Homo sapiens: one gene and its partners. The protein of the gene in region 3 interacts with the protein of the main gene of each other region in a pairwise test. Each region holds a gene or a part of one and is shown on either strand. Other genes may lie near its edges.

Region 1 (7,809 bases), on a different chromosome or scaffold from region 3:
CACGAGTTTACTCAGCACAAGGAGGGGGAAGAGGCCAGGGCGGGCACACCCCATGCCAGGGTCCTATCCATCTGCCTGTCCCCACCTTCCTCCCCCACTGTTCTCTCCCGCCCTAGGCCAAAACAGGCATAGGCCCTAAGGCCTGGTGTCAGGGCAGTCTTAACTCTCAGGAAGGTCAGGGAGCCAAGCGGGGCAGAGGCAGGAAGCCCCGCAGCAGGCCCAGAGGCTTCTGTCAGAGGGCAGTGCCCTGCCTGGAGCCCATTCACTACTCATCTTGGGGCCTTGGTCTTGGGCCAGAAGAATTGGGTCTCTCAGCCATTAAGAAGGGGGCAGTACCAGGCCAAACCTTCTCCATCTGAGCAGTCCCCTGGGCAGTGACTTCTGACCCCAAATGCCCAGTCCTAGGCTGTCCCTCAGTCTGATGCCATCCAGGCAGCCATAGGATCAGGGGCTGGTTCTCTCAGCCTTGGCTTGGAATGGGGGGCTGGCACCCTATCTGACCTACTTCCCTTTCCTCCCCACCTGCTTTCATTTGCTTCTCTCCCCCAGCCTTCACTGTCCCCACCCCAGAGCGCTCCGCCCCCCATGCCTGCTGGGCCCCCTCCCCCACCCTTCCCCAGGGTGCCAAGTGCAGGCACACAAAGGGCCTGATGGTGCATTGTTAGCCCAGCCCCCGCTGCCCGCCGCACCCTCCCTGGGCAGGCACTAGGCCAAGGAGGAGCTGGGGGCCCTGGGTGCCAGGGGGCACCATGGGGAAGAAGAAGGGGACAGCACCTGTCTTCCAGACACTGGGGTCTACATCAGCCAGAACTGAGTAGTGATGAGAGTCCCATTAGAGCAAGCCTGTCTCCTTGACACCTGAGCCTAGTGGGCACTGCCTTCTTTCTTCCCCAGAGCCCCATTCTGGTGGTATTAACCCCTTTTTGACCCCTGTGCCAGGGCTGGGGGTGTGTGGTACCCAAGGGAGGGGACAGTGTCTGGGGGTGCCAGCAGGTTGTGTTGTGCCCACAGCAACCATGTAACAGAGGCACGCTGGGGGAGCTGGGGTCCCTGGGGCCAGGGACAGAGGCACTGACAGAGATTTCTCCTTGTTTCATCAGCTGCTCCAGGGGGAGCCCCCTACCCTTCTCCCCAGTTACCACTAAGGAGGAACACTAACTATCATCCAGACATAGTCACACATATGTCCCTCTCTAGCGCAGCACAACACTCCTTATGCCCACTCTCTCCTCCCCAACCTGATGTCCACTCCATGCCAGCTCTCCCAGCAGTGCCAGGCGGGTACAGGGGTGACCAAACCAGTTGGTGTGTGTGGGGCAGCAGGAGGCAACCCCATAATCCTCCAGGCCTCATCCCCACACTCACACATACTCCCTTAGGGACCAGACAGTTCCCATCCTGCTTTAACCCCTCACAGCCCAATCTGGTTCCCCCGTCCCTGATAAGCGGTCTCCCTCCTCCAGGAATAAGTTGGGGGAAGGGGGAATAGCTGCGCTGACTCATTCCCATTCTCGGCTGCAGCTAGGGGTCTCCAAGGCATTCGGGCGGGGGTCAATTCAAGAACACCCTCCACCTGGCCCGGAAGCCTGGACAGCCTGCCGGTCTCCCCCTCTCCCCAGCACCCACTTCCGGTGTCCCAAACTAGGTCAGCAGCGCTCGTTTCCTGTGGGTCAGCTAGCACCGGCGCCTCTGCCCCTCCCCTGCTCCGGACCCAGGCTCCCCGCCCCCCTGCCCCCCAGGGCGCCCCGAGGTCTCACCATGTCTCAGCCGCCCTTTGATACGTGGGGGTTGTGCGGGGCGGGGGGCAGGGGACCCGCCCTCTCTCTAAACACCAGCAGGGCCGGGGCGCCTGGGCAGGCACGTGTCCGGGCACAACCCGCTGCCCACGCCGCCCCCCCACTCCCGCCCCCACCTCGCTCTGGCCGGGACACGTCGCTCTCTTACTTGGGATGGGGTGGGAGGAGGGAGAGAAAGCTGGAAATTGAAAGCAGCGCCCCCCACCCCTTTGAATGGCAGCCTTCTGCCAGGCGCACTCTGTAGGTTCTACAACAACACAGTAGCGACCCCCACTCTGGGCTGGGGCAGGTGCGCCGGCGCCGGTGGGGGGACGGGTAGTAGGTAGGAGAATTCTTCCTAGTCACCCGCCCTCGCTCTTGGGTTCTGTGGTCATGAGCTGGCGTGGAAAAGGTAGCGGCGGGACTGGAGCCTGAAGGAAGGGAGTGGGATTGAGGGGCAGGGAAGAGAGCGGTCGTTCTATGTCGGTTCAGAGGTTGTTGCTGAGCCCCACTACCGCTGGAGAGAGCGCGGCTCTGGAAGCGCAAGAAACCGAATAGTCCAGCCGGTAACTTTCCCCCAAGCCGCGGCTCCTCCTGCGCCCCCCCAACCCCCATGCAACTGGCCTGGGGCCAATCCACCGCGCCAGGGGGCGCGGGGTGGGGGGGGGGTGCGCGTTGTCCTAGTTAGAGTCCGTCAGCGTTTCCATTCCCTCAACTCAGTCCGGTCTGGGGTCTCCCCCTAAAGTCACGAAGGAGACTGGGGGAACGCTCAGCGTCGCCTCACCCCCTCTCCATCCCGAAGCCGTCTGTCTGTCTGATCCCAGGAGAAGTGCAGATAAACTTTCTGGGGACCCTCCGCCTAGGGTTGGGGGGCATCCGCAGTTCCTTCTCTGTCTTTCATCTCAGTTAAAACCAATTCCAGAGACCCGGGGTGTTGGGAAAGCACAGGGAAGGGGAGTGGTGGGAATGTGATCTGCATGCGTGTGTATCTGGGGGTCCCACTTACAGGACGGACGAAGGACACTGCAGTAGTCTCGAGCCTAGTGAACCCCGAGCCAGGAGACAAAAGTGGGGTACACTCACCTCTCAGCCGTCGGGTCCGCTGGCTGGAGCTGCTGAGGCTCACAGTGTGGGAAGAAGCGCGTCCCCCACCAGGCCCGGGGGCTTGGGGCCCTGCTCCGGTCCTGGTCAGAAGGCCGCGGTCAGTTGCTCGCCGCTCGCTGCTGGGGGGCTCCTCCTCCGCCGCCCTCTGCCTCCTCCTGCCGCCCGCCCCCCCTCGGCCGCCAAGAGCCGTACATTCACCTGGCTCCCACCCGCCCCCCCCTCAGGGCCCGCCTCACCTGTCCTGCTGTCTCACCTGTCCTCCAGCTTGCTTTCCCCCCATCCCTCCCCTCCCTCCCCCCGCCCCTGCCACCCCCCAAACTCCCCCCCCCCAACACTTAGAAACACCCTCTGTCACTTCCTGGTTTTTCACCCGCCCCCCCAGGCCCCCTCCCTCCGCCCAATAAGGACATAAACTTCAACCCCTTCGTCCAGCCAGTCCCTGCAGAGCGCAGATGGGTCCCTCCCTCCTTTTTTGCCCCCTTCTCCAAACTCTTACTTAGCTCTCCTAGCCTTTCCCACCCTCCTCCTTTCCCTCCTTCTTTCCTTCTCTCTGTCTCCCTTCACCTGCCGCGGTCCCTCTCTCCCCCCCCTTTCTCCTGCCCCTATCTCTCCCAGTCCACCTTAACTCAAACTCCGCCCCCGGCCCCCATCCAGCCCTTTGCTGCTGCTCTGCCCGCCCCCTGCACGCCACCGCCCTGTCCGCTCATTGGCCTGAATACCCGCTCATCTCCAGTAGGTCTCGCCTTGCGTTCGTCCAGGGAGGGGGCGGAGCCGAGGGGCTGGCCTGGAACCTGGAGAGGAGGGGGGAGGGGGCAGTGTCCGCAGCGGCCAGGGAATCGAGCACCCCCTACAGGGGCTCCCTCTCCTTCAAGAGGGGCTTCTGTAGGGTCAGGACCTCAGGAGGGAAGGGTATGAGAGGTTAGGGATAGGCTGGGTGGGGGTGAATTGGGGACTTAGGGTCTTGAGGGAGGGGGTCCCGTGAGGGGCTGTAATCAGGTCAGGGACCTAGAAGGGAGGGGGAGGGGGAGCCACCAGGCCTTCGGCTCCGGCCCCTACGCCCCACCCCCTCTCGGAGGGAGCCGGGGAGTTGAGCCTGCGGGCGCCCTGCGTCCCTCCCCACGCGTGACGGTGCCCCGCGGGGAGGGAAGGGCGCCCCAGGCAAGCAGCCTCTGTGCTGTCGCCAGTGCCCGCTGCGGCCTTGGCATTGTCGGAGGGGAGGGGCCCAGTCTGCGAAGGGGGAGGGGGCGCGCCGACGCTTTTGCTCCCCACCTCCATCCCGCGGGTTCCCTAAGTGGAGAAACTGAGTCTCCACCGAGGAGGGATAGCTTGACATGAATTCGCTGAGAGACCCAGGTGGCGAGGGGTGCCTGGATGTTTTGGGATGTGTGGTATGTGTAGGTTTTGGGGAGGACCGGGATAAATACTTAGGAGTCCCCCAACTGAGAAAGGTAGCGGGTGAAGGATGTTTCTGACTGAGCCTGCGGAGCTGCGTACCCCAAAGGGCCCCTCCCACTAGTGTCAAATGGAATCAAATCCGGCTACCTAGGGCCAGGTTTGGCTCCCCTGCGACAAGCCAGGCCGAACCGGGTCGGACTCGCTTTCCCCTCCCAACCCCCCTCCGCAGGGGGCCTCCCTCCCTTTCCAGCAGGTGGCTTCTCGGGACACCAGCTCAACCTGTTGGACCACAATGGGCGGCGCCAGGGGGGCCCTGGCCCTCACCCGGGCTGACCCGGGATCCCCGCGCACGAGGGGCGGAGTCCAGGTCCCTCCCTCCCTCTTTCTCCCTCTCTCCCTCTCCGCGCCGGGCCGTGACTCAGCCTCGGGGCCGCTGCCCTGCGCCCCAGCCAGGGGCGGAAAGTGTGAGGCGCCCCTGAGGGCTCAGGCCAAACCAAACAGCCCCCCACCCCAGACATTATCTCACTGGAGAATTAGGGGGGCTATAGGAAGGAGGAGGTAGCGGCAGGCATGGGGCGCTCTGGCTCGAGTAATCCGCTCCGGGTTTTCCTATCGTCCCTGACCCCCTTGGGTCGCGAGGCTGATCACTGCTCCGGGTTTTCTTCTCAGCCCCGCCGGACAGATCCTGGTCCGGAGGGGCCCGGAGCCGTCCAGGCCGGGGTTTTCCCCTTCCTACTCCAGCCGTCTGGGTCGTGCAGGCCTGGTGAAGGGCTGTGCTAGGGGCTAGGCGGCAGTGCCACAAGTGAAATGGAGAGGGGGCTGCTTTGGGGAGGAAGGAGGATAGCCAAGGAAAGGGGGCGGGGGGCAGGGGGCGGGGGGCGGGGGGGGTGGGAACGTGGCCCGGGGAGGGCAGAGCCAGGGCTTCCAGAGGCAATAGAAGGGCGGGCTCCCTGGCACCAGCCTTTGGGTACAGAAACTCGAAAGGTGCCCAGTGCCTCAGGCTCGCCTCGCCCAACTTCCCCCATGTTTGAGGGTCGCGTTCTGCGTCTGGCTGAACATGACTGATCTTTCTGCGGCTAGATTGCCACTCCTCACCTCATTCCCAATGGTCCTGGAACCCGCAGTTAGTTCCTCAGTGACGCCCACCCTCCCTTGTCTCTCTTTTTCTCCTGGTGCAAATAGCTCCCCTCCTTACTCAGAAATCGGAGCGGGGAACCCCTACTTGAAATTCCCTCTTACCCCAACCCCTAACCACGCCAAACGACTGAAACAGCGGCGGCAGAGAAACGCTGACTGGGGACCCCGCCCCCTCCCATGAAACCCCTGCTGGGCCCCAGGGGCCGGCCGCCCCCGCCCCGCCACTAGGCCCAGACTGGAACTGGGAGCTGGAGGGCAAGTGAGGGGCCTGCAGGGGCCGCCTGGGGATAGGAGAGCGTCCCAGATCCGCATGTTAAGACTTAAATTTTTAGGTGACCAGCTAGACCTTAAATTTGGGGAGAGTAGCACGAGTTGGACAAATACCCAGAGAAGGAAGTGTTTACCCTAAGAGAGGAATGAAAGCCCCGAGTGGGAGGACTGAATACCTGGGGCTGGGGACAGCGACTCGGAATGACGGCCAGGTGCGCGGACTGGCCGGGCCACGTGCGCCGAAGGGTAGAAGCATAGAAGTTAGATGCTTGCAGAACCTGGGGGAATGAGGCCTTCAGGTGTTAAGAAAGGCGAGGCTTTGCCTGGGCGGGGTCCTGCGTGAGTGGGTCTGGGGGCCTGTTTCGGAATGTGGGGGGCTGAGCTGCAAGCGGAGCGTCAGCATGCGCCAGGCGCCCACCTCTTCTCCGCTGCTCCCCCCCATCCTCCGCTGCCTCCGCTTCCCTCGAAAAACCCGCCGCCCAGGAAACCGCTGGGGGCGCTCAGACCGCAGACCCCCCACGCCCCCCGCCCCCCAGCGCTCCCACCGCGACCGCCCAACCCACCTGAAGGGGCCGTGGCCGCCAGGGGTACCCCCCTCCCGCCGACTCCCCCCAACACCTGCGGGTGGCACTATTTATAACTCCGCGCCTATTCCGGGCCTCTGGGTTGGAGCCGGCTGCCGCGCAGCGCTAATCGCCGCCGGGATCTCTGCGCCCCCCAAGGCCGGGGGAGGCAAATTTAGCTTCAGGAAGCTCAGGGGAACAGTTTCCAAAACTCCACGTCCCAGAGAAGGCAAGACAACCCCTCTGCACTCAGCCTCCTTCCGATCAGCCACCAGGAGGCGCAGGTCCCCGGCTTCTCGAACCCAGCCAGCTAGGAGGTTACGGTCGCTTCTTTGAAGCTGGGGTAGGCGAAGGCCTGAGGGCGAATGATGGAAAGGAACTGAGGCCGAAGAATGGCTGGAGGAACGGGTACGCTCCAAGGCTGGCGAACACTCTAGAGTCTGAGAGTAACTGAGAAAGTTGGGTGGAGGGAAATAACTCACATGCAAGACAGATGTAAATATGATGCAAATAAGAGCCTATGCCCATGCCGGGCGCGGTGGCTCTCGCCTGTAATCTCAACACTTTGGGAGGCAGAGGCGGGTGGAACACCTGAGGTCAGGAGTTCGAGACCAGCCTAACCAACATGGTGAAACCCTGTCTCTAGTAAAAATACAAAAATTAGCCAGTCGTGGTGGCACACGCCTGTAGTCCCAGCTACTCAGGAGGCTGAAGCAGAATTGCCTGAACCTGGGAGGCGGAGGTTGCGGTGAGCCGAGATCGCGCCATTGCACTCCAGCCTGGGCAACAAGAGCCAAACCCCGTCTTTAAAAAAAAAAAAAAAAAAAAAAGCCTATGCCCTTGGGGATGGGTCTGCGCTCTGGCGCTGCCAGTGAAATGATTGCCACACACCCCTTTTTGCCGGCCTCTTGGTGTTGGGAAAACGTGGGACATCCCCACCCACCCACCCCTCCCCGCCGCCAGATTATTGCTATGATATCCAGTTTATTGCCTGCCGCTCCTCAGACCCTTGGGCCGTGACCCCTCTCCTCCAACTGTTCCTTGCATGCCAACGAGGGTCCTGTATCCGATGTAATCCGCCGGGAATCCTGGATATCAGGCTTCTCCTCTCGCTGTTGTACTTGAGGGTCACATCCAGCTGGTCCCTCCTGTCTCCATTCCTACTCCACCCATTCCCCCACCCCCTGTGACCATTAGAGGGCACCAGGGCACCGAGGGGTAGGTGAGGTTTTAATGGCAAAGGCCGCAATTACTTTTGCACCAACCTAATATCTTGGTACCCTGTCTCCTTCACCTCCCTCCCACCTTACTCCACTTGAGTTCCTGAGGGAGTAATTTGGACACTCAAAACCTGAGTTGCCCTAGTCGGGGAGAGATACTTGTGGGGGAACAGCCACAGAGTGGGGAGCCATGGGCCAGGAAAGATCTCTTGGCTGTGTGGATTAGGTGAAAGGGCTGCACCTGAAACCTCCAAATGGGCTGAGAACAGGGAGCTTAGGGCTGAGGTGGGAAGTGGCATGGAGCGGGTGCATGGAGGTGGTACCCTCCATGCTTTTGTTTGCATG
Region 2 (6,100 bases), on a different chromosome or scaffold from region 3:
GGTAGAACAGCTGACTGTGGAAGGGTAAAATGCAGAGAACCAGTCATTGGATCTCCCTTCTCTACTTTGTTACTGAAATCTTGAACCTGTAGAACATTACTTATCACTGTGTTCCTTTCTAATGGGAAAATAATAATAAACACTTGCAGAGTATTTTTTAAAAGTTTTTAGCTTTAAAAAAAAAAACCCTGTGCCTTACACAATGTGTATATTGAGTTGATACTGATTATGATAATTAGATGGTATTATACAATCATTCATTCAGCAAACATTCACTTACTGAGCACCTACTAATGTTCCAGGTACTGATTGTTAAAAGGTGATTGAGACACAGCCTCTGTCCTGAGCTTAGTCTAGTAGGAGGTGACAGATTTGTAAATAATAGATTTGAAGTTGCTGAGCAAAAAAAAAAACAAAAAAAAAAACCTGTGTACCTCTCCCCCACAGCAAATGTGTCACATTTGCACAGTGCCCAGCCTTTGCACAGTGCCCAGCACTCAGCTGTGCAGATATTATTTGCACTGATCCCTTACTAATATTTAGTGAGAGAATGAGATCGTGTTAAAGAGTGTATATGTACGTGCCCCCAAAAGGGGTCAGTGTTACACAATAGTTGACAAATAATATCCTGGTGCCTAAGGAAAAAAACCTAAACTTATAAATAAACTTGGCTATCTGAAGACAGCAGAGATTGATGCTGACTAACACATAACGAATAATAAAAAAGGAAAGTGAAAAGGGGGCTATAGGGACTCCAGACCTGTAACATCTGACAAAGGGGATTGGCGGTCCTGAAGTTGAGGAACTACTAATTTAAGAAAAATGTACTTATTTTGTTATCCATGCCTTGCAGCTAAGCAAGATATGAGTTACTGGGTGTTTCACAAAGGAGGATGTAAAGAATGTACCTTTAACTTGTCTTTAAAAGGGAGGGAGGAAGCTGTCCCAGGCTTTTACTGAAGCCAGTAATCTTGCAGAACTTGATTTTTACAGGATAATGGAAATTAGTATCTTCATATATTACTGTTTGTTCCTTGAACAAGTAGTAACTGGAGAATTTGTCTCCCCATGGCCAACCCTGAAATACAAAATCCAGATAAATGCTAGACCCTGGGGTAGTCAGGTGCCAATACTGTAGAAACTCTTGCTTAGTTTCAGCATTGTGTTTTAGTGAGTATTAGTTCTACAGCATAAAATACAGTGGCTTCTGAAATTACTTTTTTAGCTTGGGAAAAATAAGCAGGATCCACTGGTGCTTCATGCCCAGTGCAGCCGTAACTTAGAAGGCTGGTTTAATAAGTCAGGGGAGGGTCTGTGTGCATTGCCAAGTGAGTGTGATTTGTTGTGCAACTCTCAGGCTGTGCAGTAGGAGGTCTGCTTTTGCTGGCAATAGATTATTTCTCATTTCACTAAAACATTTCATGTCTTTTGGATTAGCATTTACACAAAAAATCATTTTTAGTGTTTACATATAAGTACCCTCACGAGCTGTGAGAATTAAGTGAAAGTCTACAACTAATTTTTTCTATTCAGCATCCCCCAAATCCTCTGTTAGCTTTGCTGTAATTTAGACTGTCCTAATGGAGGTATTTCTGAATTGTTTTCTTTATTCTCTCATCTCTTCTACCTCCCAGGGAATGAAAGCTACTGGTTGATTTTAAAGTGCCTGGGCCTCACAGGTTTGGAGATGTCCCAGAATAAGGCACAATGTCAATAGCAGGAGTTGCTGCTCAGGAGATCAGAGTCCCATTAAAAACTGGATTTCTACATAATGGCCGAGCCATGGGGAATATGAGGAAGACCTACTGGAGCAGTCGCAGTGAGTTTAAAAAGTAAGTAGAGGATGTAATGCTGCTGTAATCTGGATAAATATGTGACACTAAAATGGGAGAGGCTGTGATTGCTCTTCGCTTATGACCAAAGTAGCTTCCTCTCCTTTCAGCAACTTTTTAAATATTGACCCGATAACCATGGCCTACAGTCTGAACTCTTCTGCTCAGGAGCGCCTAATACCACTTGGTATGTATTCTGAAAATCTGATCACAGTAAGCATTTGAGAAGAACAGTCTGGATTCGGGTTAGCTTGTCCTCCAGCATTATTTTTTAAATGAGGAAACCTGAACTATTTCCAACAACAGCCTGACCCCTAGTGGCAACAGATTCAGAAGATAACTGTGTTTTTCTCAAGCTATTGTACTCGACTGCCTTCATTCTGAGTCACTGATTGCTAAGTAGGACTGTTCATGGACGTGGGATCTTCTAAAATCAAGAATTAGTTCTCATTCCAGCTCTGATGCATACTTTACTTCATGAAACCTTAGGCGAGATTTCCCACCTTTCTTACTAGTATCGAATGCATGTTTGACAGTAATAGATGAAAATAGTATAAATGTTCCTCAAAACTTAAAAAATAGTATTTTTAATGTGAATATTCTGTTCCTTGGATCTTTGTCAAGAGCTGTGTGTGAACTGAACACATTGCAGGCAAGTCCATTCACTCACAATATTATGATGTGCCAGCAATAAGGACTTTGTCTTATCTCATTGGTACCCTACGTGCCTAGTATGGTCGCATGTCTTAAATGGCAAGGCTGGTACAGTATGGTATTCATGTAAATTATATGCTATTCATCTTCCGCGAATTTTACACACGTCACAAAACTTGCCTGTGATGTGTGGGTGTGCGCTGTGCACATGTCCAAGGGAGATAGAGGAGATAGTTTGTTCTTTGAACCACACCATGTGCGTTAAGAATCTTCTGCTCTCTAATTACACCTGTGGTGGTTGCATGGGTGTTCTCGGGGTGACAGCAGTCAAGTGTTTCACTCAGGAAGAAAGCTGTGGAAGCATAGGTAGCTGGGGTGCTCTCTCCCTCACACAGGTGGAGAGAGGATTGTTGATCTTTTATTAATATCTCTCGTTCATTCCAGGGCATGCTTCCAAATCTGCTCCGATGAATGGCCACTGCTTTGCAGAAAATGGTCCATCTCAAAAGTCCAGCTTGCCCCCTCTTCTTATTCCCCCAAGTGAAAACTTGGGACCACATGAAGAGGATCAAGTTGTATGTGGTTTTAAGAAACTCACAGTGAATGGGGTTTGTGCTTCCACCCCTCCACTGACACCCATAAAAAACTCCCCTTCCCTTTTCCCCTGTGCCCCTCTTTGTGAACGGGGTTCTAGGCCTCTTCCACCGTTGCCAATCTCTGAAGCCCTCTCTCTGGATGACACAGACTGTGAGGTGGAATTCCTAACTAGCTCAGATACAGACTTCCTTTTAGAAGACTCTACACTTTCTGATTTCAAATATGATGTTCCTGGCAGGCGAAGCTTCCGTGGGTGTGGACAAATCAACTATGCATATTTTGATACCCCAGCTGTTTCTGCAGCAGATCTCAGCTATGTGTCTGACCAAAATGGAGGTGTCCCAGATCCAAATCCTCCTCCACCTCAGACCCACCGAAGATTAAGAAGGTCTCATTCGGGACCAGCTGGCTCCTTTAACAAGCCAGCCATAAGGATATCCAACTGTTGTATACACAGAGCTTCTCCTAACTCCGATGAAGACAAACCTGAGGTTCCCCCCAGAGTTCCCATACCTCCTAGACCAGTAAAGCCAGATTATAGAAGATGGTCAGCAGAAGTTACTTCGAGCACCTATAGTGATGAAGACAGGCCTCCCAAAGTACCGCCAAGAGAACCTTTGTCACCGAGTAACTCGCGCACACCGAGTCCCAAAAGCCTTCCGTCTTACCTCAATGGGGTCATGCCCCCGACACAGAGCTTTGCCCCTGATCCCAAGTATGTCAGCAGCAAAGCACTGCAAAGACAGAACAGCGAAGGATCTGCCAGTAAGGTTCCTTGCATTCTGCCCATTATTGAAAATGGGAAGAAGGTTAGTTCAACACATTATTACCTACTACCTGAACGACCACCATACCTGGACAAATATGAAAAATTTTTTAGGGAAGCAGAAGAAACAAATGGAGGCGCCCAAATCCAGCCATTACCTGCTGACTGCGGTATATCTTCAGCCACAGAAAAGCCAGACTCAAAAACAAAAATGGATCTGGGTGGCCACGTGAAGCGTAAACATTTATCCTATGTGGTTTCTCCTTAGACCTTGGGGTCATGGTTCAGCAGAGGTTACATAGGAGCAAATGGTTCTCAATTTTCCAGTTTGATTGAAGTGCAGAGAAAAATCCCTTAGATTGCAAAATAAAATAGTTGAACTCTCTGTCTTCATGTGGAAGGTTTAGAGCAGTTGTGAGATGCTGTTATGCTGAGAAACCCTGACTTTGTTAGTGTTGGAAAAAAGTCTTACAAGTCTATAATTTAAAGATGTGATGGTGGGGAGGGGAGGATGGGGAAGCTTTTTATATATGCATACATTACATACCTATATATAAACTTGTGGTATAACCATAGACCATAGCTGCAGGTTAACCAATTAGTTACTATCGTAGAGTAATATATATTCAGAATAATAAACTCAAGCTGGAGAAATGAGTCCTGATAGACTGAAAATTGAGCAAATGGAAGAAGATACAGTATTGTTTAGATCAGAATCATTAAAAAATATTTTTGTTTAGTAAGTTTGAAGATTTCTGGCTTTTAGGCCTTTTCTATTTTGTTCCATTTATTTTTGCAGGCAATCTTTTCCATGGAGGGCAGGGTATCCATTCTTTACCATGGGTGTACCTGCTTAGGTTAAAAATCATACCAAGGCCTCATACTTCCAGGTTTCATGTTGCGTCTTGTTGAGGGAGGGAGAGCAGGTTACTTGGCAACCATATTGTCACCTGTACCTGTCACACATCTTGAAAAATAAAACGATAATAGAACTAGTGACTAATTTTCCCTTACAGTTCCTGCTTGGTCCCACCCACTGAAGTAGCTCATCGTAGTGCGGGCCGTATTAGAGGCAGTGGGGTACGTTAGACTCAGATGGAAAAGTATTCTAGGTGCCAGTGTTAGGATGTCAGTTTTACAAAATAATGAAGCAATTAGCTATGTGATTGAGAGTTATTGTTTGGGGATGTGTGTTGTGGTTTTGCTTTTTTTTTTTAGACTGTATTAATAAACATACAACACAAGCTGGCCTTGTGTTGCTGGTTCCTATTCAGTATTTCCTGGGGATTGTTTGCTTTTTAAGTAAAACACTTCTGACCCATAGCTCAGTATGTCTGAATTCCAGAGGTCACATCAGCATCTTTCTGCTTTGAAAACTCTCACAGCTGTGGCTGCTTCACTTAGATGCAGTGAGACACATAGTTGGTGTTCCGATTTTCACATCCTTCCATGTATTTATCTTGAAGAGATAAGCACAGAAGAGAAGGTGCTCACTAACAGAGGTACATTACTGCAATGTTCTCTTAACAGTTAAACAAGCTGTTTACAGTTTAAACTGCTGAATATTATTTGAGCTATTTAAAGCTTATTATATTTTAGTATGAACTAAATGAAGGTTAAAACATGCTTAAGAAAAATGCACTGATTTCTGCATTATGTGTACAGTATTGGACAAAGGATTTTATTCATTTTGTTGCATTATTTTGAATATTGTCTTTTCATTTTAATAAAGTTATAATACTTATTTATGATACCATTAGTAATGTTTCTTGCCTAAAGTCTTATAAAGTGTATGAAGCAATTTGACAGCATTATTTTTAAGCACAAGCGAAGATTCTTTGAAGTTTAATGTATTCTTGAAACTCTTATTCTTTAGAATGAAACATAATTTGTGCAATCTTTTTCACATATTATGAAAGTATACAGTGGAAATGAGCTGTTTGTTTTTACCTTTAACAACTGAAAGAGAACTGGATTCTGGGGTTACTATCAGAAACAACGTTGGGGGTGGGAGTCCACATCAAGGAGAACGTGACAGAAGAAACCAGTTCTGATGTGTAGACTTGGTTTGACTCATTCTGATTTTTAGGACGAGGTCCCGGTTACTCTGGGCCCTTTGGCAGGCTTTGCTTCTTGCTTAAGGCCACCCAAGGAATCTGCACCTGCCTTGGCCTGTCATGGAGATGGCAAGTCCACAGTGGACAAATGGGCTCCTGGCAGCCTTTGGATGGAGGCAGGGGCTGGAGTGCTC
Region 3 (8,005 bases):
TAAAATACAGGAAAAAGTACAGATATGAAAATATGAAGGATAAAAAGCATCTATAACATTAATACTCACCAATACTACTGTCTGCATTTTGATGTATGCTTCAATTGATTCCTATTGCGAAACATGTAGACTGATTCCACTTTTAGCTTTTATAGCCATTACTATCAGGTGGTAATTATCTTGGGAGAGATGCTCTAGATGCTCAATATGTTTTAATTACATTTATACATATATCTAGATGCTGGATACATTTGAATTAGTTCACTGGAGTGGAAACTTGTTCTTTCTGCTGCTGAATATTTCATCTACTTTATTTCAGAGGCAGCACAACTTGTCTGCTTACATTGATGCTGCAGCCATAGTATCTGGAGTGGATTGGGTGACCCGAGGCTGCTGTATCAGGACGACATTCCTTTTGGTGCCACAGCAGGGCTTTATAACCAAAGCTGGTCCAATACCAGCATCTGATGGGGGACTTGTATAGGAGCTGCCAGAATAACTTTTTCCAAGGCACTTCTGTTTCCACTTGCTGTGGGATTTTTGTCTCCACAAGGGGAGAGTCTGAGAGCAAAGCCTTCATAGGGGAACCTGGCAGAAGGTGGAGAGAGCACCTGGGCTCTGCAAAGCCAGACTGAAGTCACAAGCCGCTCTGGACTTCTTCGTCAAATGGACCAGCAACATCTTTTTCTGTTAAAGCAATTTAGACTAGATTTTCTGATACATGCAACTGAAGCACTGTAAATAATACATGAATCTTATCCCCTCAGAAGACTTTCTACTTTGAACTCTCTCAACCAAGCAGTATTAGAGCAAATAAGCAAATTCCTCAGTTGAGAGTTAATCTTGCAAACATCCTGCTGTAGGGAAAGGTCATGGCCTGATCTGTAAACACGGGAAGAGAGCCATTGGACTTGGGAATCAGATGCAGCCTCACACGGCTGCAGACCGCAAGACTCATCCTAGACACAGCTTATGTCACTGTGATCCAGCTGTTGACAAGGCTGGTCACAGTGAGGACATCTTCAGTGTGTCAGCTGAACTACAGAAAATGTTACAGATTCTAATCAACTTCTGATAAAATCATGCGTGGTCATAGTTACATGCAGTGAATTTCTCTGTCAGAACAAAAAGAATATGCAAATAAAAATTTAGACATAAGCCTCAAATCCCATCCTCAGCATCAAATGATGGCTCACCCATTTTTCCTCTGCTGTACCATAAGGCATATAGAGCATGACCTGATCAGAGTGCTGATGTCCCATTCTATCATACTGATGAAGACACAGGTCATTACTAATGAAGCCTCTTAAACCTCACATCATGGTTAGCATCTGCACTCTCATAAACGTCTTAAGTCCCTTGAATCAGGCAAAATCTCTATAAATATTTAAGTTTTTTCTAAAAAAAGAGTGGCTGCCAAACCTCAAGCTAAGAAACTTTCAAATAAAGTTTTCTTTAAAACAAAAGTTAAAATGTTTTAAATTTTCATAGTAACACATTTTTTTTTTAAATTAGAAGGTCTTATAAAATACCGGAAAGACAATTTTTACTTTGGAAACCTCAAAAGCATAAATCAGCTTAAGATCTGGAAATAATTTTAGGTATTGATCGCAGTTCTATAAACTCAATGCTAGAGTCACTGGGGACAAACAGGGACATGAGAATCCTACTCGGAGTAAATTGCCACCTGAGGTGACAAAGCTGACTACGGTTTCCAATCTAGTTGTACACGGAGGGTCAGGAATGAAAGCAAGAAGACCCAAGGGCCCCTCTCCACCACTTTCCTTACCAGAGTTCAGATTCCCAAACTTTTGCTTCCCTTATATTATTTTCTTCAATGGACTCTAATTATGAAAGGAATACTTACAGGAAAGCAAGCTTACTAAATTTGGTTTTCCAAGTTCTTACTGATTACATATTAATCAAATTATTAAACCTTATACTTTATGTGAAATGGAGGTTAACTCATTAAACTGATAAAATTCCATCTAAGATCAAAGGAACTTGAATGCTGCTAAAGGTATATTTAGAATAAACTAAAGAAATCTTAGCCAAAAGAAAGTGTATGTATCTAATCTTTAGAGAGGCTTTCAAATGTTGCTTTAAGCTACTTTTATTAACAAAACTGCATTTTGAACTCCACTGCTTGACAACTATGGCCTTTGTTTCTTAAGTCAATTCTTACCTTTCTGGGGCCTTGGTTTAACTACTTCCTTTGTTTTAAGGACACAAAGCTTGTCAGTTCTCAAAATAAAAACCTGTCTCTCTGGTCAGATCATTAACTCCCTAGTCAAACTTTCAGACTACCGTCTGAACATCAAGTGCTAGCCTGAGCTTGTTTCCAGTCCCCCAACCCCAGGCTGTGGCTGGGGAAGGAAGAGGACAGCGAAAGCTTTCTCTGCTCCCTCGGGAGACAGGAAAGCCCTTTATTTATTCCTGCCCTTCCTCTTCTCCAACTGAAGAGTGTGATCTTGGTACAGAGCAGTTCCACACATGCCACACTGGTCTGATCTTTTAGAGTAAAAAATGGGATCTTCTCAGAGAAAATTTTTTTAAAAACTTCATGTGCTTAGGTCTCAGAGCAGAGAATTTTGTCTTATCATGACGCCACTCACTGGCAAACAAGCTGGCGTGCACAGGGACTTGTGAGGCTCTCAGCAGAGTCAGGGTAGCAGTTATTTCCCTTTGACTGCCTCAACTTCCTATGTTTGTGTTGACATGCCAGATCCTTATTTCTGCGGAATGAGAAATCTCTTGAGAATAAAGTTTTCCTAAACAGAACAAAAGTATCAAATCACTTTTGATGAGCAAACATTATTTTAAACTTTTTTTTAACTTACAAAAGATGAGGGGTAACATTTACTAGTTTTACAGAAATTTTCTTTAAACAGAACATTAGTGAACCAAATAACCAATTCTCCTCAAACATGATAGACAGGATGGAGGTTATCACTTTGATCATTTTAACCTCCAACATAGTAATTTGTAAACATCAGTCGCTGCACAAGTATTTTAATAACAGGCCAGCCCACGGGAGTAAACAGCACCTTAGCCTCGAGACCTGTTCTCTCAACTGTGTGTACAGATTTTCTAAGTCGTTATGAATTCAGATATTCCCTACATCTCAATAAAAACACCTAGGAGAACAAGAAATCAGGACATGCATCTCCTGTAAGCAGAAGAGAAACCGAGCACCTGCTCTCTTGCGGGGGGGCAGCTTCGTGTCACTTTCCAACTCAGCCTCCACAGGAGCATGGGCATATTGGTTCAAATGAAGTGTAAAGGACACATCTCTGTCCACAGTGTAAATCCTATTTCCTTAAGGTGGTCAACCGATTGAGACCAGTTCCACACTTCCTTAAAGAAGGAAAAACTCAGCAGCCAGCGCCAAGGCCCAGCGATCAGAGAGGACCCGTGCTCGCCGCGACCCCGCGCTCGCCCTGTGGCCCCGCGACCCCGGCGCCAGGTGTTGGGGGGACCGGCCCTTCCCTTCCGGGTGTGAGGGGCTGGCCCTTCTCTTCCAGGTTGGGGGGCTGGCAAACTCGAACCTCGCCGGCGCCCTAGCCAAGGCCTCCTCCCCGCGCCTGCCGCGGGTTCCACGCACATTCCAAGCGCGCGCATTCGACCCAAACTTCAGAGACGCTTCTGTGGAACGGAAGGATGGTCGCTGACACCTCGCCGTTCAAATATCAGGAAGTTAAAAATAACACGACCATCGTCATCATTCCAAACTTCGGAATAGCTTTTCTAAAAATGGAAAAGACGGTGGCTAAACTTCAATCAAAATCGCTGTGGTCAAGAAAGTCCTGGAAGCTGCTCTATCTTAACTTTGGGCGGTTTGCGGTTAACAGACGCGCGACCTAGAAACCCCAGAGGCATCGCCGGTTTTCCCGTCCTCCTCCTCCCACCACCGCCCAGCTCTTGAGAGGGGAGGGTGCTGCCGGACAGGTGGGTCCCCGGGTACTCACTGCTGCCCGCCCGGCCGCGGCGCCCCGTCCCGAGGCTGCCCAGGAAGAGGAAGGCGCGCTGCCCCGCCCCGCGGACAAGGAGGCCCCAGCGAGGGCGTACCTGCGGCAGGTGACGAAGGAGGCGGCGCAAAACACCCGCCGTGTACGTTTCGCGGGACAAAAACCACGCGCCCGCCGGGCCGCGCTCAGGCCTTCGCCCTCAGGGACTTCGGAACCGCCCCGTCCTCAAGATCGAAAAGCCCAGAGCCCCGCGGCGGCTCCAAGCACGGTGTTGGGGGTGGGGGTCTCAGGGAGCGCCCAGGCCCAAGGCCGCCCTGGTCCGGCGTGGACCCCGCGGGGCTCAAGGCAGGTTCCCCGCGTGACCCGCCCAGCCCCTCTATGCGAACTCGAACGACAGGCACCACAGCCCGCCACGTGCGCGAGACTCGCGCTGTGCCCCAACCCAGGTGGGCGGCCCGCGGAGCCGCGAGGCCTGAGCCCGCCCTGCAGGTGACCCGCGGCCCTTCCTCCTCCAGGTACCCCTCTCCTGCGGCCCCGTCCCCTATAGGTAACCTTTACCTCCCGCGGCTCCTTCCCCTCCAAGCGACCCGCAGCCCCGCCCCCTCCAGGTGACTCCCCCCCGCCAACCCCCGCCACCACACACACACACCCCCTCGCCTTCCGCGGCCCTACTCCCTCCAGGTGACCCCACCCCCGCAGCTCCTCCTCCTCCGGACAACCTGCAGCCCCGCCCCTGCAGGTGAACGGCGGCCCAGTCCCTGCAGGTGACCCGCGGACCCTCCCCGCCCGTCCTACTACCGTCATAGGACCGCCTCCGCAGGCGCACTGGAGCCGATTGCGCAGGCGTGGCTCTCACACGCGCTGCCCTGTTGGCGTTGGTGCGGGACTGCGCAGGCGCGCGGGGCAAGAGGGTGGCAGTGCGCCTGCGCCGCGTCGGCGTGCGGAACGCCGCGGTGTCTCGGCGCCTCTGCGCGCGGGAAGATGGCGGAACAGGCTACCAAGTCCGTGCTGTTTGTGTGTCTGGGTAAGAGGGCGCCGACTTACTCATGTTCTGACGTCCTCTGGAGAGTTGGATCGGGCTTGTGCGCTGTAGGTTGTGCCGCCGGCCTAGGAACCATGAGGGGGAGGAGGCCAGGGACTGGGAGGCCTAGGGTGTTCTAGGAGTGTGCCGCAGCGCCCCTGTTCCCCATCCGCCCCGTGCACCCGCCCAGCCTGCCCGCTAAACCTGGGTCCCCTCGCGCCTGCCATATATCCGGGGCTCTTGGCATCTGCAGCCACAGCCCCTACAAGCCAAGGTACTTTCTTTGCGACTACTAGAATCCCTCTCGTTCCCCTCCAATGGGCCCAGGTAGGCCTGGAGGTTGTCGGACTGATGTGGTCTCTTAGGGGCCTCCTGAGTCCTATGACAACATTGTTTTGTTTGCTAGTTTCCTTAGCCCATGCTTAGATAGGGATCTGAGTTAAAGGGAGATGAAGTTTTACGGTTTCGGGTTTCTTGATTGTAAAAGCCAAGCAAAGGAGACCTGGAGGTCCCTATATAACTTTGGCCCATGAAAAATGAAAGTGTATTTTATTAATGGCTTTTCAGGAACTTTCCAGCTTAAATTATTTTCACTCCTAGAATTTCAACACTTAGCTTGCCTTACTTCAAACATAATTTATTTTCCGTTTGGTCTTCAGGGATCTTCCTTTGGTGTAGCACTACAAGGTTATATTCCTCGGTGCCTCCACCCTGAGAGGAAGGCCTAAATTGTCAGTAGTCCGGTTACTTAAAACCTTCTGTGAGTTTGCATTTCCTGCAGTTTCTGTTTATTTTTACAGACTCCTCACTTTATCTCCTGTACCTTTTCCTGCTCACACCCTCGGGACACTGCCTTCCAGAACCTTTCGTTGTTCGGTAGCACTTCACATGCTTACTGAGCCTTCATCGCTGGGTGCCCATTATGCATTTTGCCTGGAAAGCCTTTTTATTTTATAAAGTCAAACCTAAATATTTCCTCCTTTGCTTTCCCAGATCATGAGTTGCTTCCTTATCGACATCTTTTATTACACAAATTTTACTATAATTTGTGTAATATAGTAAAAGATGTAATACAGAAAAGGTGTGATTCCTTATCGACATCTTTTATTACACAAATTTTACTATAATTATTTGATAGTCTGTTGAAATCCCAGCTGAGTTTAATTTTGTCGATGGCAATAACTGTGGCTTATTTTTCATTTTGTTTTCAGCTTTAGGACAATATATGATAAACGCTGACTAGGTTTTGTAGAAGTTAACTTCTGTGAAAGACGAATTAGAAGGCTTACCTTGTTTCACATTGGTAGTGGGCATCATTTGATTTTTAAGACTCATTGAAGGCTGAATGATGAAATCAATAAGTTTATTAAACAGTAGTTTGGTTAAGGATGGTTACTAAATAATATTCCATTCCCTTGTATAGTTTTGGTTGGTATTGTCGATTATGCTGGCATAATGCATCATGGTTGCTGTTAATGGGGAAGTGTATCCTTGCATATACAGTAGTCCCACTTTAGCTGTAGGGGATACATTCCAAGACTCCCCAGTGGATCCCGAAACTGTGGGTAGTACCAAACCCAATTGCTGTCAATTGGAACATGTGTCTGCTCGTTTCTTACACCCACAAATGTAATACCGTTGCCACCTTAACTAAGCATTTAAAACTGTGGTCGCAACTTTTGCAGTTTGAGGCAAGACAGCAGACGATCAGGAATTTCTTTTTCCTTGTTTACATTTTCATGGATAGAAGATTTGTTCGTACTGTAGATCTTAGTAACCTCGGTATAAGTTTTTTTTTTCTTTCCATAAGAAGTCAAAAACTTTCACCTTTTTACTTAAGGGTAGTGCTTATGGCTTCTCTTTGCCGTATCTGAATTGCTAGCTTCACTACTCTTATGATTTCGGGCCATTATTAGTAAACTAAGGGTGACTCGAACTCAGGCACTGTGATAGCATCACAATGGATCTGATAAGCTAGAGGGCAATAGGTGGATAGACAGCATGGATATGCTGGACAAAGACGTGTTTCACTTCTGGGGCAGGACGGAATGGGATGGCATGAGAATTTATCCTGCTACTCAGAACAGTGCACAATTTAAAACTTAGGAATTATTTGTGGAATTCTTCATTTAATATTTTCCAACTGAAGCTGACCATGGGGTAACCATGGAAAGCAAAACCTTGGAAAAGAGGGGACTATTGTATTTCAATACAATTCAGTGATTTTTTGTTGTTGTTGAGCATCTACTATATGGCATGCATTCCTCTAAGTGGTGTGGTGAACACAACAGACAAAAATCCCAGCCTCTCTGGAGCTCACGTTCTCTCAGTCACCAGCAAGTATTAATTGATGTGCTCAATCGGTTGATGTGAAGATTAAGAAAAATAGAGCAGAAAAGGGGAATGGGAGTGGAGTGCAGTTTTGAGTGGGATGGTCAGGGAAGGCCCCACCTGATAGATGACTTTTGAGTAAAGACTTGAAGGAGGTGAGGAAGCAAGCCTAGGATATTTTGGAGAAGCATCCTGAACCCAGAGGAAAGCAGGTAAAAGTTTTGAAGGGAGAATACTGGCCATGGTCATGAACCGCAGGGAAGCTGCAGTGGCTGGGCCTAGTGGCCAGATAGTTTTTCTCAGTCAGGATTCCTCATCTATACCTGAAAATTTAGCAGATAATTTGAGCGCCTGTTTTCTCAGTGCTTCCATTGTAGATGTATAGGGAGAAGTTAATTCCTTATATACACTGGTCCTTTAGGGCAGGAGTCTGCAAACTCTTTGTTTAAAGAACCAGATTATAATTATTTTAGATTGGCTTCACATGACATACAGAAAGGGTGTAGCACAAAGTAGCCATCCATATGATGAACCTGGCTGTGTTCTAGTGGATCTTCATTTGTGGACATCAGAATTGGATGGAACTCTGTATAATTTTCACATGTCACAAGGTACTCTACTTTTAGATTTTTTCCAACTACTCAACAATGTAAAAATTATTCTTACCGCTGTGGGCTGTACATAA
Region 4 (8,417 bases), on a different chromosome or scaffold from region 3:
AGTGCCACAGAATCCAGAACCTTCCACACTGACAGCTGCATCTGCGGGACTGAACGCTGTCGTCTTAGGCGAGCGGAGGCCTGGGTGTTTTGTGTGTTTTTGTTTTTTTGTTTTTTTTGTTTTATTTTGAGACAGAGTCTTGCTCTTGTCGCCCAGGTTGGAAGTCAGTGGCACAATCCCGGGTCACTGCAACCTCTGCCTCCCAGGTTCAAGCAATTCTCCTGCCCCAGCCACCTGAGTAGCTGGGATTACAGGCATGCGCCACTACACCCGGCTGATTTTGTATTTTTAGTAGAGACGGGGTTTCACCATGTTGACCAGGCTAGTCTTGAACTGCTGACCTCAGGTGATCCGCATGCCTCGGCCTCCCAAAGTGCTGGGATTACAGGTGTGAGCCACCTCGCCTGGCCTCACCCTGGGTTCTAATAGCCCTTTCTCCCCTGCCTGCAGGGAGGTCCTCCCAGCCCCATCGGGCCCTCACCCTGCTCAGACACCAGTGGCTTCTGCCACTCACACTCCTCAGCTAGGTGCCCTGGCTAGGCTAGCATCTTGGGGCCCTGCCTCTCTGTGCTTTTCTGCCTCCAGGCTCTGTCCTCCACTAGGAATGGCCCTCCCTTCTTCTCTTCCTGTCCACAGCGTGCCTGTCCTGCCTAGCCCAAATGCCCCCTCTACAGTGTCTTTCCTGGCTCCCACACTACATATAAGCTCTGAGCTGTGGTGTTCTCTACGGGCACTATGTTTGGGTGCACGTCAATATCACACCTTCCAGGTCAGACACCTCTCTGTGTCCTGGGGGGTGCCTGGCATATGGTAGAGGCTCAGTAACCCAAAACAGACTGGCAGAGGCATGGAATGCAGGCTCCCAAGTGAGATGTGCTAGAGTTGGAAATCCAACTCTACCACTTAGGAGCTGTGTGACTTTGAGCAAATTAGTTAACCTCTCTGGACTTCGGCTCTCTCATCTGTCAAAGAACAGCACCTACTTCATAGTAAGGTAATCCATGAAAAGCACAGGGCTTAGAACAGAACAGTATCAGCTACTACTAATAATAGCAATAGTAGCAGTAATAATAATGGGTACTTTTGAAAGCAATAGTGCCTGTGTGACCCTGGGCAAGCCATCTCACTTCTCTGGTGAAAGTCAGTCACCTGGAGAGGATATTCTCCCAGCTTCCTCCACCCTCCTTCCCCCATTCTCTTGTACAGAGCAAGAAGGGCTGCCTGGAGGAGGCAGGCTGGCCCACAGGCAGGGCTACCTTGGAGCGGTACCACTCTTCGGCTTCATGCATGTTGCTGGACGCCATTGCCTCATACTGCGTGCGGATCTCTTTCAGGGCTGCGGTGAGGTCTGGCTTGGCCACGTCAAGCTCCACATGGACCTGCTGTCGGGCCAGCTGCTCCTGGAGTTCCCGAACCTCCTGACCAGGGTGAGAGAAGCGGTACCAGGGCTCAGGGTACAGGCCACAGCTGGGGTTCCCCACGCCATTGTGTCCTCTTCTGCCTGCCCCTCGGCCAGGAGTTCGAATGCTCTCTTGTCTCTTTCCGTCTCCCTTAGTGTCTTTCTGTTTGTCTTTCATTTCCTGTCTCTACCTGCCAATCTCTGTTTCTCTCCTCTCTCTGAGTGTCTCTCTCAGTCTCAGCTTCTCTGTCTCTGTCTCTCCCTCTCTCAGTTGCAATCTCTGTGTTGAGCTTTCCTCCCTCTGCCCTGGCCTCACCTCCTCGTGGATCTTCCTCAAGAACCGGATCTCCTCCTCCAGCGACTCAATCTTCCTCTCCAGATCCAGACGGGCCAGGGTGGCTTCATCTGCTTCCTGGAGTGGCAGGAGGGGTGAGGAGTAGAGGGCCACTGGGGCCCCAGGCTCCTTCTCCCCATTCCTCAGCCTTGCCTTACCCCTCCTTCTGGGGCAGTGGGGAGCAGCACATTGCTCTGGCGGGCTGAGCTTGGGGGCTGTGTTTGGGTGGGTGGCCATCAATCCTTTCCTCCCTCCCCTGCCCCTCCCCTCCACCTCCCTGACCTGTCTATAGGCAGCCAGGTTGTTCTCGGCTTCCAGCCTCAGGTTGGTTTCATCCTGGAGCCTGGAGTGGGGGGACACATTCCTGGGTCCAGGCTCTTCTGAGGACACTTGAATACCTGCCTCAGTCTCCCTTGAGGCAGCTGTCACAGAGACCACCCCCACCCAGGACCAGTAGAGCAGCAGGAGGATTAAGGGTTGGGGGGCCTTAGACAGAGGACTTGTCTGGAGGATGAGCAGATGTGGGCTTTTGCCTTAACTCATTACTAAGGTGCCTTATCAGGGTTGGTGCACCTGCTTCTGCTCACACAGGCGCATCCACAAGCATACACTCACTGTTGCACACACACACACACACACGCACATGTCCTCCTGCACTTGAAGGCACACATGCATGTCCTGTCAGCTCAGTGAAGCGCCATGCCCCTGGGGATTCCTCTGATCCCAGGTAACCACCTTTTGAAATGAATTTTATTATGACCACCGCTTCACAGCTGTGCAAGTCAAAGTAACTTGATGGGGGTCACAAGCTGGTGGCAGGCAGTCACCTGTGCTTTGCGCCCAGACCTGCCTGCTCTTTCCCTCACTTTCTTCACCCCAGAATCCAATCTCCCTCATGGACATCAACCTTCTCCGCTTCCAACTCCTCCTTTATATGGACACAGGCTCAGAATAGGTGAGCTCGCTGCCCACAGTCACAAAGCCCAGCCATGAATGAAACACAGGGGCCCCGCTGCTCCTGCACTGCTTTCCCCAGTAGGGAGGTGCTGAGGGGACCCTGGACTCCTGGCAGAAGGCATGCGGGCATCAGATCCCCGGGGCCCTGGGCCTGTTTCTGGTCCCTCCCATCATGTTGGGGGGCAAGGATAGTGCCCCATCAAGAGGTAGGGAGGCCCAGGGAGCAGGGAGGTTCGGCCCCTCCCTGAGACTTCTCGGGCACTCCTTCTTGGGGATTCAGCCCCTTCTGCTCACAAGGCCCCCCTTCCCCATCCCCTCCTCACTTCTGCCTCACAGTGGCCAGGTCCTGTGCCAGATTGTCCCTCTCAACCTCCAGCCGGGCGCTGTTGGCGGTGAGTTGATCGAGCCGCAGCCGCAGCTCTCGCAGCTCAGCCTGGTAGACGTCTGCCAGCTTGGTGGGCTCCTTGGCCCGCAGCTGGTTCAGCTCAGCAGCCAGCGCCTTGTTTTGCTGTTCCAGGAAGCGAACCTTCTCGATGTAGCTGGCAAAGCGGTCATTGAGCTCCATCATCTCTGCCCGCTCACTGGCCCGGGTCTCCTTGAAGCCAGCATTGAGTGCCCCAGCCAGGGAGAAATCCACCCGGGTCGGGAGTGGAGGGGGCATTCGAGCCAGGGAGAGGCGGGTGCCAGGACCCAGACGGCGGCCAGGAGCCAGGCCCCCCACCATCATCTCCCCTGAGGAGACGTAGGAGCGGCGAGCAGCGGAGGTGATGCGTCTCCTCTCCATCCTGCTCTGGCTCTGCTCGCTCCTGGGATGCGAGGGCTTTATGAAGGAGTGGGCTAGACTGGCGATGCCCGGGTGCCCCTGGCAACACCCCCTGGCATAGCCTGAGGGGGTGGGGTTGGGCCGCAGCCCAGCTATGGGGAGAGCTCCCCTCACCCCACTGAGGTCACTGTGCCCAGAGGCAGAGCTTCCTGGGCACGCCAACTCCTGCATGAGGCAGGTGGTACCTGGAGCCAGACCATGGGTCTGGGGCCCTGACCGCTGAAGCAAGAGGACCCTCTCTCTAGGAAGGTGGGTCAAGAAAGGGTTGGTTGGACCATGATGAATACTTACAATTATTATGCATCAATTAAAAAGGAAGGAAAGGGCTGAGTGGGGTGGCTCATGCTTGTAATCCCAGCACTTTGGGAGGCTGAGGCTGGAGGATTGCTTGAGCCCAGTAGGTTGAGGCTGCAGTGAGCTGTGTTTGCGCCACTCCAGCCTGGGCAACAGAGAGAGACCTTGTCTCACAAAAAAAAAAAAAAAAAAGGGAAGGAAGGGCTGTACCAGATGACCTCTGACCTGCTTTCCAACTTTTTGATTTCATAACCCAGGCATTATCTCACTCAGCTGTAAGTGCCTGCAAGGTGCTGGGAATTTGGCGAAGAATGAACCTGTTCTGTACCCTCAAGGGCCACCTCATTTCCTACTAGGCCTCATTCCCAGCAGACTCCTGGAGTCCTTCCCTTGAACACAGATGTCCCACATTCCTGCTCTCTGCCCATTCATTCCCTGGAGTTCTGGGGCTGGGGGCTGGGATTGGACACCAGCCCTTTGTCTAAGGGTCAATCATGGCCTCTATGTGGCAGTGGAGGTCCTGATAGGGCAAGAGGGGGCCGGCACTCTCTTGCCTTATCAGGACTTTAGCCCCTGGATCTGTCCCTCCAGGTCACCCCTTCCTTGTCTGGCCTCCCTGTGCCTCTCTCCCAGAGACCAGGCCTTGACAGCTCCACAAAGCCGTTACACATGAGCTGGCTGTGCTGGCTCGTCTTTATTCCTGCAGCGCCCCGTTTCCCTGGCCACCCCTCCGTCTCCCACTGGAGATTTATTTCCTCGAGTTCCCACACATCAGCCTGGAGAGATGGGAAGAACCTCTGGGGATGGATGGGTTTGGAAACGCTGGAGCCACTGGGCCCAACTAGGAGCCTGAGACCTGGGCCCTGTTGTCCCTGGAGACTTCAGGTCCATCTACGCCCTCCACTCTGGTCCCACAGGGTCAGAACCCTGCCCAGTCCCCTCACCCATTTGTGTCCTTGGACTTCTGGGAAGCAGACAGCCCTCCTCTCCCCCCCTGCCACCCACTGTCCATGCCTGGGCATCCCCTGATCCCCTTTCCTGGGCACAGGCTGAATAGAGCCTTGTTCTCCACCGCCGGTGGCGCCACACAGCAAGGGCAGCCCCTAGGGGGCTGTGCTGCTTTTATCCCAAGATGCCAGGCTGTCAGGCTGGGGTGCAATGCAAGCCCCCTGCTCAATGGGCTTCTCGGAAGGCATTTGAGGGGGGCTGGGGTGCGGCGGGAAGCAGGCACTGTGCCCACCCCGAACATTGTGTCTGTGCCAAGGTGAGTCATTCACTGGGCATGAAGAGGAGGCCCTGGGGGGCGGCCAGCCCAATGCTGCCAGGTCTGCTTGCAGACAAGGCCTGGCTGTCTGCCTCCTCCCCAGCTCACAGAGCCAGCTCAGGCCCCCGAGCCTCTGTCAGAGCAGCGTCCCCTACTCCACACCAGGATATGTTCTTTTTTTTTTTTTTTTTTTTTTTGTCTTTTGAGACAGGGTCTCACTGTTGCCCAGGCTGGAGTGCAGTGGCGCAACCACGACTCACTGCAGCCTCAACCTCCCAGCCTTAAGTGATCCCCTCACCTCAGCCTCCTGAATAGCTGGGACTACAGGTGTGTGTCACCACACGTGGCTGATTTTTTAACTTTTTTTGTAGAGATAGGGTCTTGCCATGTTGCCCAGGCTGGTCTAGAACTTCTGGGCTCAAGTGATCCTTCCACATCAGCCTCCCAAAGTGCTGGAATTACAGTTGTGCGCCACTGCGCCCAGCCCAGGGTATGCTCTGCATTTGGACATGTGATGGACAGACTGCCTCCTGAGGTCTCCCTCTGTGAGTCCCAGCACAGAGAGGGAGGTGGGAGCTCCTTAGGCTCTAGTCACATCTGACCTGGGCGTAAGCAGTGACATAGGAAAGAGCATCTTGAAGACGGGGTGAGCGCCCAGTGACCTTTGATCCTGCTATGAACTGGGGACCTGGGGAAGGACAGGAGGCTTTAAAGGAAGAGCAAGGCTGGGCATAGTGGCTCATGCCTGTAATCCGAGCACTTTGGGAGGCTGAGGTGGGCGGATCGCTTGAGTCCAGGAGTTCGAGACCAGCCTGGGCAATGTGGTGAAATTTTGTCTGTACAAAAAATACAAAAAAATTAGCCAGGTATGGTGGTGCACTACTGTGATCCCAGCTATTCGGGAGGCTGAGGTGGGAGGATCACCTGAGCCCAGGAGGTGGAGACTGCAGTAAGCCAATGTCGCATCACTGCACCCCAGCCTGGGTGACAGAGACTCTGTCTCAATAAATAAAAAAATAAAATAAAATAAACAAAATAGAAAAGGAAGACTGGGGATAAGCTCTTGTCTGAACTCTGTCTCATCTCTGTGGCTAGGAGTGGCCCGCCTTTCCAGGCTGCCCAGCAAGTCACAGCATGTAGCCTTCCCTTTTGGTTCAAGGGAAGTCTAGTTAAAATAAGGGCAAAGCTGTCCTAGAGAGAAAAGATGTGATGAGCAGGAGGTGCCTGTCATTGAAGCTCAGTGAACTGTCCCTGTGTATGTGAGACACAAGCTTGTTTCAGCATCAGCAGTTGGAGTCCCCCAGCTTTTGCCATCAGCCACCTCCGTGGACCCCTGTCATAGGCCCAGGTGCATCCTCCACCCCTTCTCAACCCTCAGACCTTTCCTCACACTCAACCCTTAACTATCTTGTTTTTGTTTTTTGAGACAGGGTCTTGCTCTGTTGCCCAGGCTAGAGTGAAGTGGTGCTATCACAGCTCACTACAGCCTCAATCTCCCTGGCTCAAGCGATCCACCCACCTCAGCCTCTCTAGTAGCTGGGACCACAGAGATACACCACCATGCCCAGCTCATTTTTGTATTTTACTAGAGACAAGGTTTCGCCATGTTGCCCAGGCTGGTCTCGAACTGTTGGGCTCAAGTGACCCTCCCACCTCTTCCTCCCAAAGTGCTGGGATTACAGGCATGACCTATACAACCGGTACATATAGATCACGCCTGGCCAACCCTTAACTATCTAAAGGTGTCTGCACAGAGAACCAAAGATACAGACAGATTTGGTCGTGGTTGTGTTCCAAACTTTCATTATCTTTTTAATTAAATATTCATTGTAGAAAGGTCAGAAACTATAGATAAGCAATACAAAAAAATGTAATTAGCCATCATTTTGCCACCTGGAGATAAACACTACCAGATTTTTTCCACACATATATAATCATTTTTTTCAAAATGGGCTCATGCCGTACAAATTATTTTGTAATTTGCTTTTCTCACTCAACAATATGTTGTGAACATCTTTCCACATCAATAAATATTTGTCTGCATCATCATTTAACAGCTGCATGATTTTCCACTATATGCATTCATGTACCAAGCCCTAGTGGTGGACAGTATGACAGTATGTTCTCTCTCTCTCTTTTTTTTTTTTTAGAGACAAAGTCTCACTTTGCCACCCAGGGCCAGAGTGCAGTGGCACCATCATAGCCCACTGCAGCCTCAGACTTCTGAGCTCAAGCAATCCTCCTGCCACAGCCTGCCAAGGAGCTGGGACTACAGGCACATGACAGTGTGCCCAGATAATTTTTTTTTTCAGAGACCAAGTCTTGTTATGTTGCCCAGGCTGGTCTTGAACTCCTGGCCTCAAGTGATCCTCTGGCCTCAGCCTCCCAAAGTGCTAGGATTACAGATGTGAGCCGCTGTGACTGTCCTCTCTCTGTTCTAAACCACACTCTGATTTGCATCTGCTGCAGGCAGACACAGCAAACAGAGAAGGGTAGGCCCTCAGCCCGTCCAGCCTCCACCCAAACCCCCCATCCTCCTAGCCTGGCTCAGGCCCCATTCTCTGGGGTGCCTCCTCTCCTGCTTCCCCAAATGGAAGGCCCCAACTTCTAAAGCCTCTGGCCAAACCCTAGACTGCCTTCTAGACTGCACAGCAGGATAATACCAGCCATGGAGAGAGAAGTCTGGATGCCCTTTCAAGGAGCCTACAGCCAAGCTGTGCCTGCTTCAAGCTGAGGTGAGGACAAGATGACCTTCCTGAGCCCCTCCCTCACATCAGAATCTGCTAGATGACCTTCTGCTTACAGGGTAAAGCCCAGATGCCTCCTGGGACAGACCAGCCCCACATGTGGCATCAACCCACACACAGGGTGCCTGGTGTTTGCCAAATAGGCCAGCCTCTAATTCAAACGGCAGTTTTGCCACATGACTGCTGCCCGCTGGTTCTGCTTGGGCCCTTGGCCCTGGCCCAGTGCCTGGCACAGCGTGGTGGTCAGCAAGCTGGGTGAAGAGAACACAGTCTCTCTGGCTGAGCCTTGGTGACCAGCAAGTCTGTTCATCCATGGCCTGTCCCGAGGAAGGGAACTGAGCCTGGTGGCCACTAGATGGTGGTGCTCAGCTGGTCAGGTGTGAGCCGCCACAGCCACCGCAGTTTAGAGGCAGGGAGAAAGCTGTAGGCGGAGTTTTCTAAAACCCAAATTTGTTTCACCCAGGGGCATCACCCGCTTTGTTCTCTAGACTTGACTCTGACTGCTATAGCACTGTCCTCAAGGAGAGGGAGCAAAGCCTTGGCCACTCAGTAGCTGTGCAGTCTTTGATGACTTTAAGAACCTTGCCTGAGTCTTCATT

What was found.
Region 1: the proteins of SH3YL1 (region 3) and ZBTB7B interact in binary tests that used the Homo sapiens proteins (3 or more experiments, as listed by UniProt).
Region 2: the proteins of SH3YL1 (region 3) and ERRFI1 interact in a two-hybrid assay, tested with the Homo sapiens proteins (one study listed by BioGRID).
Region 4: the proteins of SH3YL1 (region 3) and GFAP interact in binary tests that used the Homo sapiens proteins (3 or more experiments, as listed by UniProt).

What each region holds. Positions count from the first base shown.
Region 1 is NC_000001.11:154,997,993-155,005,801, reverse strand, and holds the start of ZBTB7B (zinc finger and BTB domain-containing protein 7B), read right to left. Parts: upstream 3,001-7,809; 5' UTR 2,960-3,000; coding exon of another isoform or gene 2,859-2,959; intron 1-2,858. UniProt on the Homo sapiens protein: Transcription regulator that acts as a key regulator of lineage commitment of immature T-cell precursors. Exerts distinct biological functions in the mammary epithelial cells and T cells in a tissue-specific manner.
Region 2 is NC_000001.11:8,011,227-8,017,326, reverse strand, and holds the end of ERRFI1 (ERBB receptor feedback inhibitor 1), read left to right. Parts: exon of another isoform or gene 1-1,634; 5' UTR 1,635-1,707; coding exon 1,708-1,832; intron 1,833-1,926; exon of another isoform or gene 1,927-1,942; coding exon 1,943-2,019; intron 2,020-2,930; coding exon 2,931-4,117; 3' UTR 4,118-5,600; downstream 5,601-6,100.
Region 3 is NC_000002.12:260,016-268,020, forward strand, and holds the start of SH3YL1 (SH3 domain-containing YSC84-like protein 1), read right to left. Parts: upstream 4,018-8,005; 5' UTR 3,970-4,017; coding exon 3,969-3,969; intron 2,772-3,968; exon of another isoform or gene 2,186-2,771; intron 1,116-2,185; exon of another isoform or gene 70-1,115; intron 1-69. Other genes in the region: ACP1 (low molecular weight phosphotyrosine protein phosphatase), read left to right, coding at 4,950-4,992.
Region 4 is NC_000017.11:44,912,013-44,920,429, forward strand, and holds the start of GFAP (glial fibrillary acidic protein), read right to left. Parts: upstream 3,489-8,417; 5' UTR 3,475-3,488; coding exon 3,014-3,474; intron 2,077-3,013; coding exon 2,016-2,076; intron 1,812-2,015; coding exon 1,716-1,811; intron 1,419-1,715; coding exon 1,257-1,418; intron 1-1,256.